Linked DNA regions of Homo sapiens. The protein of the gene in region 3 purifies or fractionates together with the protein of the main gene of each other region. This does not show direct contact. Each region holds a gene or a part of one and is shown on either strand. Other genes may lie near its edges. The genes, in order: MAP4K5, PLAA and NTAN1.

Region 1 (3,429 bases), on a different chromosome or scaffold from region 3:
AGTTTTGCTCTTGTCGCCCAGGCTGGAGTGCAATGGCGTGATCTCGGCACACTGCAACCTCCGCAACCTGGGTTCAAGTGATTCTCCTGCCTCAGCCTCCCGAGTAGCTGGGATTAAAGGCATGCACCATCAAGCCCAGCTTATTTTTTTTGTATTTTTAGCAGGGACAGGGTTTCTGCATGTTGGTCAGGCTGGTTTCGAACTCCTGGCCTCAGGTGATCCACCTGCGTCGGCCTCCTGAAGTTCTGGGATTACAGGCATGAGTCACCGCGCCCGGCAACAAAATAAATTTTTAACCACTTGTAAAGATAAAACAAAAACTCTGTTTAGATATGTATCTTAAAAACAAGGAGATGCCCATGTAAGAGACAAGCAGAGCAAGGCAACAGTCTGAAGGAAGTAGTTTTTCAGAGCAAATAGTGATAGAGTGGACAGAGAATACGAACAGGGAAGGGAAAAGTGATGCACAAAGCTCTGAGCAGAGTAGGTAGAAGGAAACAAGCAACCCAGAGAAACGGCCTCTGATGCCAACCCTCTACCAAGCTGAATTCTCTCACACTTGGTTTCATTAAAGGATTATCTACACCAGGATCAATGGATGATCCACAATTCTTTTTTTTTTTTTTTTAGACAGAGTCTTGCTCTGTCGCCCAGGCTGAAGTGCAGTGGTGCGATCTTGGCTCACTGCAACCTCCGCCTCCTGGGTTCAAGCAATTCTCCTGCTTCAACCTTCCGAGTAGCTGGGATTACAGGGACACGCCACCATACCTGGCTACTTTTTCTATTTTTAGTAGAGACAGCTGATTCACCTGCCTCGGCCTCCCAAAGTGCTGGAATTACAGGCATCAGCCACTGTGCCCGGCCCACAGTTCTTTTCTCAGCCCTTCCTGGAGAAGCAAAGAGCCTCTCATTTTAGTTCTAGAGTCATTTACCAGATGATCCTCAAATTCTCTTTTTGTTGGTTGGACGACTTACTAAGTTGCCATGCTTTGTGGGCTTACCTTTTCTATTCACTAAGGTAGTCATCACTTTTTGAAAATTCCTGTTCTCCTATAAAACTCTCTTCAAAATTTTTATGGAGTTATAACTCCATTTCCCCCTCCTTCCTCAAGTATCTAAAACTTAAGCAATGTGAACCTGAAGACCAGAGGTTCCCAATCCTTGTCTCAGGACTAATGCATACCACTATAGCCAATTTTGCTTTAGTAACAACTTTTGGTGGGAAAAGAGGAAGGAATGGGTATTTTATTAGCTATAGAAGTAGACAGTTGAGCGACAGAGTGAGACCGTCTTAAAAAAAAAAAGAAAAAAAGAAGTAGGCAGTAGATTTTGGAAATCAAAAGCTACAGCTACTACATTTTTTTCATAAGATGACAGTTTTGCAACTTGTCTTTTATTTGGGGTAAAAAGAGACCATATAATTCTTTTTAACTTAGATTAACTTTAGAAACTGAACCAGGCATTTTCTAATATAAAAGCAAATATCATCAAGAGGTACATATTCCTAATAGTTAATGGAAGGCAGCACACCATGAAGAAATGAAGACAAACGGGCCCGAAATAGCTCTCATAGTACTAGGGACATCAACATCTATATCAACACATTTTGTCTCAGTTGAATATAACTGTCTCTAGAATAACAATCCTCACACTGACAAAAGGTTGCTTAGTTAACTTATTAAAATATTACTAATTCTCTCAGTAAAGACACAGAGAAATGTATCTAAGTCAATGAGCTTCTAAGAGTTTTGTTTGAAACAATTACAGACTGACAGTATAATTAAGAGTATGATCTTTGAACTCCTTTGGTAATTAAATTAATACAACCAAACTATTACCTGTCTGATCCTAATAAGCGGAAAACTCTTGTTTCATCTGAAATCTCCTGGGTAACCTAGGAAAGAAAAATACCTATCAGTAACATCTTACTCCCCATATTGCCTTAATAACAATTTAAAATTAATTTAGAGCAATTATTAACACAATAAATATTTTTTGGTAGACTTAATTCCTCAAATAAAAGAAATTTTAGTAAGTTTTTTGATTGCATATTATTAGAAATGAACCCACATTTATGGAACATCTAGTATGGGTCAGGTACTCTACTTAGAAGAACTCTTTGTGATATGCATTATAATTCTCATATCATTGAAGAAGAAACTAAGACTCCAAGAGGTTAAATAAGTTGTTCAATCTCATAGAATGGGTAGACTCAAGACTTGAATACAGGTTTGTTGGACTGCAGAGCTCCTTTGGGGGCCAAGGCTTGAGGTCAGGAGTTGAGACCAGCCTGGGCAACAAAGTGAGACCCTGTATCTACAGAAGTATTTAAAAATTTTACCTGGGCACAGTGGTGCATGCCTGTAGTCCTAGCTGCTCAGAAGGCTGAAGTAGGAGGATCGCTTGAGCCCAGGAGTTCAAGGATACAGTGAACTATGATTGCACCACTGCATTCCAGCTTGGGCAACAGAGCAAGACCCTGTATACTCTGTTTTCTACAAAGCTGCAGAGGGTGCTCAGCCATGTGCAGGTACTATGCCAAAGTGCCCGCAGTTTGTATACCTGGGGGCAGGCCTTAACCAACATGGGATAGCAGTTGCTGCATAAATGCTCAAGCCTCGTCATCTACAAATGAGTCAATTCTGAGGTGTATTTTACCCCATTCCTCAGTGGTCCCTACTGGATTAAGCCCCAGTTGCTCTTAGTGGGAACTAGCTTATTAATGTGTTCTTTATTGGCTTTTTGCCCCTCTTTATTCTCCATTCCTCATTCCATCACTTGTCTTCTGGAATCTATTCCCAAATACACTATCTGTATTTGAGTCCTTGTCTTAGGGTCTACTTTTAGAGGAACCCACACTAAGATATTGTAGATATAAAGTAAGTTAAAAAAAAAAAAAAGTCTGGTATCAAGGAGTTTGCAGTCTACCTGGGAAAATAGAATTAATAAGCTTGAATCAGAAAATAAATTAGGTGTTATACTAGTTGGAGCTGATTTTTCAGAGTATTAAGTTCAGAGATGTTCTAATCATTGTGCCTGGAATGACTGAGTATTACTTTATGAAAGAGGTCAAGACTTTAGCTAGGCCCAAGTTGAAGGATGAGAACATAAACTGAAAAAAAGGTAATCAAGACGAATTAAAAATAGGCCGGGTGTGGGGCTCACATCTGTAATCCCGGCACTTTGGGAGGCCAAGGCAGGTGGATCACGTGAGGTCAGAAGTTCGAGACCAGCCTGGCCAACACGGTGAAATCCCATCTCTACTAAAAATACAAAAATTAGCTGGGTGTGTTGGTGCATGCCTGTAATCCCAGCTACTCAGGAGGCCGAGGCAGGAGAATCGCTTGAACCCAGGAGGTGGAGGTTGCAGTGAGCTGAGATTGTGCCGCTGCACTCCAGCCTGGGCGACAGTGTGAGACTCCATCTCAA
Region 2 (3,655 bases), on a different chromosome or scaffold from region 3:
TAAATTACTCTTGTTGGGGAAGAAAAATTAAAAATGAATTTTCAGGTGAAAACAAATTATTGGGGTCAAAATACTATTTCTGGAGGTTTTTGGAGAAGGTAGGATGAATGTAAAATAACTTCTGAAGACTGGTGATAAAAAAATATTGCTAAACCTTAAATACAAATTTTGGTTATCAGGCTTTCAACAAAAAAAAAGATTTCTCTAACTTGAAAATTAATTTTTACTACTCACTGATATGTTTTATAATGTTAGTAAAATGTATAGAGCCATCAGCCAAATTATCAGTTTTATTGATTTGCATTATTGTTTTTTAATGCAGGGCATGAAGACTGTGTAAGAGGTTTGGCAATTTTGAGTGAAACAGAATTTCTTTCCTGTGCAAATGATGCTAGTATTAGAAGGTGGCAAATCACTGGCGAGTGTCTTGAAGTATATTATGGACATACAAATTATATTTATAGCATATCCGTTTTTCCAAATTGTAGAGGTAAGATTATTTTATGCTATTTATTTAATGTTTTGTATTGAGCATTATTCCATCCCATTTGTGAGATGGAGGGAGGAGAGCTGATTACTTAATTTACTATCTATGACTTGAATAATTTAGTAAATTTATTTCATTAAGTATCTTTCTCCTGTTTACAAAGAAGAAAATTGTATGGCCATCTTTATATTAATTCAGATTTATGTTGTGCTGTAAAAAGTTCTTGGGTATCTGAAGAAACACTTTGTAAGATGTGACATGAATAAAAAATGTGATTTTGAAGTTGTATATGTTGTAAGTGACAAACATATGAAATTTAAAACTGTAATTTTGAAAGTCTCTGGGTTTCAAAAAGTCAGTGTATCTAGAAAGATGGTATGTATAAATGTACTTAATTTTATTCAAACTAATACTTCCTATATTCATTAATTTTAGACTTTGTGACAACAGCAGAGGACAGATCTCTGAGAATCTGGAAACATGGGGAATGTGCTCAAACTATCCGACTTCCAGCTCAGTCTATATGGTGCTGCTGTGTGCTCGACAATGGTGACATTGTGGTTGGTGCGAGGTATTTATATTCTAGTCAATCATTAAATGTTATATGTCTAGGCCTTCAGTAGGAACTAGAGTGTACAGAGATAAGCCATAAGGAATTTCACGTGACTTGAGGAGACTATATGGACACTTCAATTACTAAACAAAACAGTAGTAGATATTATAGCTTTCATACTAAGGGATGCATGATATACCAGTATTGTACTGCAATTGTGCAGTCAATGATGCATGATATACCAGTATTGTACTGCAATTGTGCAGTCAAGATATTGACTACAAAAGAAGTTAGAGAAGGTAGAGATTGGTGTGGGAAAACTTTCTGTAGAAGAAGAAATTTGAACTGGATTTTGAAAGATTATGAGTGAGAAAAGATACGCAAATTTTTGTCAAAGCTAAGAGTATAAGTTTCCTTCATGAGAATGAATGCAGCATGCATAGGAAGTGAAGGAAAATGGTGGAGTACTAATGCTGAGATAATAGGTACAATGGGGCTTAACTGTGGAGAACCTTTAGTGCTTTCATGCCAGGCATTTTTTAGATTCATTGCCTGGGGTTGAAGGGTTGTAGTTCTTGAGCAAGAAATAGGATTGAAGCAGAACTTATGAATTACTAAATATGTAGATTGGATTTAACTGCTGGTGACAATGGACAGGAAAGTAAATTAGAAAGCAAGTACAGAAGGAGTGTGAAGTTATAAGACATTGGCCCCACAATGCTAATGGGTAGGAAATAAGTAAATGAGATAATCCAGAAGGAAAACAATCAGAAAAAGTATGAAAGAAAAGGATAAAGCTTCAAACTGTTAGTGATTGGAAATCTTCATTAATAAAAATGGAGAAGTGGGAGAATTGGTTGGGTACAGAAGGTGATGACCGTGGCCTTAGACTTCCTGAGGTCTGCAGTGGTGGTGAGCCACACTCATGCCAGTGGATCATGGTCATTTGAACTGGAGCTTAGTATAAGAACTGAGGCTAAGATAAAGATTTCGCAAAGCTTCCAAAAGCAAAGCATAGAACACCATTCTCTGAGGGAAGAAATACAGGGGAGGAACAGAAGACTAAGAACTAAGTTTTATGATATACCATTAGTAGAGAAAAAGAAGTTAGTAGGTTAAACAGAACAAAGGAATTCAAATGTTGAAATTTCTGGGAGACAGAAAAGGAGAGATTTTGGAGGGAGATTGTCATCAGTGTCAAAAGTGTTTGAGGAGTCAAAGAATGGAAAGTTTGAAAAGCATTTGGATTTGGTTTGAAAGATGTTATTAGTGACTTTTGGCATCAATCACATTTTGAATAGAAAATGATAGAAAAAAAGGCAAATAAGAGGAAATAAAGGGTTGGAGGAGATGGACGAAGGATCATAGACTACTCTATAATGCTACTCTAGCATTGAAAGCAATAAGAAGGCCAGCTGCTGTGGCTCACACTTGTAATCCCAGCACTTTGGTAGGTCCAGGTGGGAGGATCGCTTGAGCTCAGGAGTTCGAGACTATCCTGGGTGAGCTACCGAGACCCTGTCTCCATACAAAAAAAATATTTAATTAGCTGGGCATGGTGGCATGCATTTGTAGTCCCAGCTGCTCAGGAGACTGAGGTGGGAGGATTGCTTGGGCCCGGGAATTTGAGGTTGCAGTGAGCTGTGATTGCCGCCCCTGCACTCCAGCCTAGGTGACAGAGTTGGACCCTGTCTCAAAGAAAAAGAGAAGAAAAAGAAGGTGACAGCTATAAGGGATAGAGGGTCTAATAAAGTGGGTGTTTTATTTTTTGGCTGGGACAGAGGCTGATTTATAGGCTTAGTTTTTTTCCCTCCTAAGCATATGAAGAAAAACCAATAGAACGAGTGATGTACATGTTTGTGGACGAATAAGTTAGAAACAGGTTTCCTGTAGAATGGGCCAGGATTAATACAGTTGGAAGTGTCTAATTTGCTTCTCCTATCTCAGAATTTCGAATTAAGAAATCATGGAGATAAAGTAATTTTTCTGAGAAAAGAGGTTAAGGACGGCCATCTAATCCAAACATTAGGCCATTTTTTTTCCTTGATTGAAGTTACATTGCTAGTTACTGGCATAGTAAAGGATGACCATATTTGTCTACTGAACATCTGCTAATTTTAAGCCCTACATTGGGTCTTTGAGCCCTTTATAAACTAAACTAGCCCACTACCCTTCTCTATATGGTAATAACTAAAAAATATTGACTTTAAAAGTACATACTATAGCTCTAGATTCTTATGATGGTAAATATTTAACTTGGAAATTGTATAAAATACATGTTTCTCTGTTCTTTGTCAATAACTTCTCTATTAAATAGTTGACATAATAGAGTAGCATGTGCTGAAGTCAGCACAGTGCTGTAATCAGCAATTAATAACATGCTAATATTTCTCATATTCACAAACACAGATTATTTTTACTATGGATCATTCAGGTGTGATAATGTTAATGTATTATGGCAATGACTTCTAAAATCAGTTTATTTTTCCTTACAGTGATGGCATTATTAGAGTGTTTACAGAATCAGAAGATCGAACAGCAAGTGCTGAAGAAATCAAGGCTTTTGAAAAAGAACTGTCTCACGCAACCATTGATTCTAAAACTGGCGATTTAGG
Region 3 (3,655 bases):
TTCTTTTATCTTATTTTTTTTTTTTGAGACAGAGTCTCGCTCTGTTGCCCAGGCTGGAGTGCAGTGGCGTGATCTCAGTTCACTGCAATCTCCACCTCCCAGGTTCAAGCGATTCTCGTGCCTCAGCCTCCCCAGTAGCTGGGATTACAGGTGTGCGCCACCATGCCCAGCTTTTCGTATTTTTAGTAGAAACTGGGTTTCGCCATGTTGGCCACACTGGTATCAAACTCCTGGCCTCAAGTGATCCACCTGCCTTGGCCTCCCAAGGTGCTGGGATTATAGCATGAGCCACCATGCCCAGCCCCCTGTGTAATTTGTAATGGCAAAAAGCTGGGAGCAGCAATGGAAAAGGTAAGTAAATTGGGCACAGAACCAAGTCACAGCCACTAACTGCACAGTCATGAGAAATGAAAACTATGGGAAAAAGAGTTTTGAAATGCTAATTGAAAAGCAAGATACAAAAGTATAAAAAATGTTTTAAAGAGCTATAAATGTGCCATAATACAACAATGATTAAATGCTTATACCCATAGAGAAAAATACTGGAAGGAAATTTCACCAGTACAACCATGGCTGTGCCAAAAAAGCAAACATGAGTGATTTCCTGTTGCTGTTGTCCTCTCTTCTCTCAATGTTCTATCACATAGTTATTGTTAGAATACAAAAACAAAATGGATAAGGCAAATTTACGAAAGGTATGTTAATACTAAGTGTCAATAATCTGAGTGTTTGTACACACTTATTTAGTAAGCTTGTAAAAAAAATTCAGTGGTTAAAAATTCAGTGGTTATTTAACAAAAACTTTTTCAAAATATTAAATTGATACAACACTACAATGTATCATAATTTCCTTCTTACTTGCAACAAACTCCTGGATGAACAAAATCTTCCTCAAATGTCTAGACAACGTATGTATGTATTGCCTACACAGGAAGACAGTTTTGCAGTCTTAGTCTTCTATCAGCTTCTTGCCATTTCGCATGACTGGTGCTAATTTAGGTTAGCGCTCACTTAATAAAACATAAGAGCAGCTGGGTGTGATGGCTCCCAACTGTAATTCCAGCACTTTGGGAGGCTGAGGAGGGAGGACTGCTTGAGCCTAAGAGTTCAAAACCAGCCTGGGCAACAAGGAAGATCCTGTCTCTACAAAAATTACAAAAATTAGCTGGGTGTGGTGGCATGTGCCTGTAGTCCCAGCTACTCTGGAGGCTCAGGTAGGAGGATCACTTGCAGCCAGGAGGTGGAGGCTGCAGCGAGCCATGATTGCACCACTGCACTCCAGCCTGGGTGACAGACCAAGACCCTGCCTCAAAAAAAAAAAAATTAAGATTAAACTAAAAGAAGAGATGTAATAAACATAATGATCAGCTTGATTACTTACATGGTGTTTTCTTCTGTTTATAAACTTCCATTAACTGGAAGCAAGGTATCAATGAAAATGAGACAAGCCCCTTAATTTAAGAAACAAACTAAAGATTAAATGAACTGCAGTGTAAAATTAGATGGGCAAGACAGCCTTGCTTGCTCCAGAAGTCAGTGAGAAACAGGTGTGACTGCTCTAAAACTCAGAACACCTGTACAGGTGACAGCCTCTCATTTTCTCATTCCACTTCTTGCCTCATCTTAGTTCAGAATAACAGGGGAGAATTCAGAATTCCCTCTTGATTACTCCTGAGATACTTACCTTCTGCTTTGTTCTTTGAGGGAAGGGAAGAGAAGGGAGGGCGCAAAGGCGAATTTTTAACACTCATGTTCACAATTGGGTCACCACTCAAAAGCAAAGCTATTTGTGAGAAATTAATTACTGCTTTCACAAAGACCAAAAATCATGTCTCTCTTCAACACAGCTCCTACGATTTCCCAAAGAAATAAAAGCAAAAATTATCAGAAGAGAGAATGCCAGAAAACTAAAACAGTAGACTGCTTTGCTCTATTTTTTAATTTCTTTTTTTAAACAGGGTCTTACTGTCTCCCAGGCTGGAGTGCAGCGGCGAGATCGTGGCTCACTGCAGCCTCTGGCCTCAAGCAATCCTCCCACCTCAGCCTCCCAAGGAGCTGGGAACTACAGGCATGAGCCGACACACCTGGCTAGTTTTTGTACTGTTTGTAGAGATGGGGTCTCCCTGTGTTGCCCAGGCTGGTCTCGAACTCCTGGCCTCAGGTGATCCTCCTGCTTCAGCCTCCTTTGCAGTAGCTGGAACCACAGGCGCACGCCACCACACTTGTGCTAGGATTATAGGCATGAGCCACTGTGCCCAGCCTCTACTTTATTTTTAATTTTTTTTTTTTTTTTTTTAGAGACAAGGCCTCACTCTGTTGCCCAGGCTGAAGTGCTGTGGCCAGATCATAGCTCACTGCAACCTCAAACTCCTGGGCTCAAGCAATCCTCCCACCTCAGCCTCCTTTGCAGTAGCTGGAACCACAGGCGCACGCCACCACACTTGGCTAATTTTTGCTCTTTTAAGTAGTAAAAAGAGTTTAGCCAAACTTCCCTTCTTTGGAAAACCACACAGTCCTACTTTATAAATTCATATGCAAGTAGTCCCAGTTTTCTTAACCTCTAATATGCTCTAGACACTAATATTTGCTTAAAAAAAAAAAAGCTTTTCCCTCAGTCCCTCATCCCTATTTCCCAGTTCCTATTCAATGGCAGTATTCTCTTAACCCAGTGACCAGCAGATTTTCTGAAAAAGGCCAGACAGTAAATATTTGGGGTTCTACAAGGCCGCAGTCTCTGTCACAATTGCTCAACTCTGCTGTTATTATGAAGTGAAAGCAGCCATAGACAATACAGATGTGGCTGTGTTCCAATAAAACTTTATTTATAGGTGACACCGAAGTTTTAATTTCAATACCATTTCCCATGTTACAAAATATTATTTTGATTTTTCTCAACCTTTGAGAAATATAAAGACCATTCTTGGCCTATAGGCTATACATAAGCAGGGTCCGGCCCATGAGCTGTGGCTTGTTGACCTGTGTCTTAGCCAATCACCTAGCTGTGACCTGGGGGATGATCATGTGACCCTCACCCCTGCTGTCCTGTTTATCAATTCTTCCTTTATAAACAGGAGAGGGGCATGAAGGTGATCTGTGAACTGTAAAGCACAATGCTATATAAGAAATTATGAGGCCCAACACACTGGCTCACGCCTGTAATCCCAGCACTTTGGAGGCCGAGGCGAGATGATCGCTTGAGGTCAGGAGTTTCAGACCAGCCTGGCCAACATGTTGAAGCCCCATCTCTACTAAAAATACAAAAATTAGCCGGGCATGGTGGCAGATGTCTGATACTCAGGAGGCTGTGGCAGGAGAATCACTTGAACCTGGGAGGCAGAGGTTGTAGTGAGCCAAGATCGTGCCATTGCACTCCAGCCTGGGTGACAGAGCAAGGCTCTGTCTCTCAAAAAAAAAATAAATAAATAAATAATAAAAGCAGGAACTAAGCTACGCTGCGAGCATCTTGTAGACTCTGTGGAACCGTATTACCCAAGATGTTGCAGGACTGGTTACCGAGTACCCAGTGACTGGTTAAGAGTGACTAAGGGAGGGCTCTAAACAGCTCTGGCCAAAGGAACTTCATGCTGGGATGGCCACCGTCTATATTCACACTGTCTCATTAGTAGCCATGCTGTCTGCTCGGCACTTGAAATGT

The links.
Region 1: the proteins of NTAN1 (region 3) and MAP4K5 fractionate together in Homo sapiens (co-fractionation; one large-scale study listed by BioGRID). This does not show direct contact.
Region 2: the proteins of NTAN1 (region 3) and PLAA fractionate together in Homo sapiens (co-fractionation; one large-scale study listed by BioGRID). This does not show direct contact.

What each region holds. Positions count from the first base shown.
Region 1 is NC_000014.9:50,421,283-50,424,711, forward strand, and holds part of MAP4K5 (mitogen-activated protein kinase kinase kinase kinase 5), read right to left. Parts: intron 1,895-3,429; coding exon 1,839-1,894; intron 1-1,838. UniProt on the Homo sapiens protein: May play a role in the response to environmental stress. Appears to act upstream of the JUN N-terminal pathway.
Region 2 is NC_000009.12:26,923,228-26,926,882, reverse strand, and holds part of PLAA (phospholipase A-2-activating protein), read left to right. Parts: intron 1-322; coding exon 323-490; intron 491-922; coding exon 923-1,058; intron 1,059-3,535; coding exon 3,536-3,655. UniProt on the Homo sapiens protein: Plays a role in protein ubiquitination, sorting and degradation through its association with VCP. Involved in ubiquitin-mediated membrane proteins trafficking to late endosomes in an ESCRT-dependent manner, and hence plays a role in synaptic vesicle recycling.
Region 3 is NC_000016.10:15,049,422-15,053,076, forward strand, and holds part of NTAN1 (protein N-terminal asparagine amidohydrolase), read right to left. Parts: intron 1-3,655. UniProt on the Homo sapiens protein: N-terminal asparagine deamidase that mediates deamidation of N-terminal asparagine residues to aspartate. Required for the ubiquitin-dependent turnover of intracellular proteins that initiate with Met-Asn.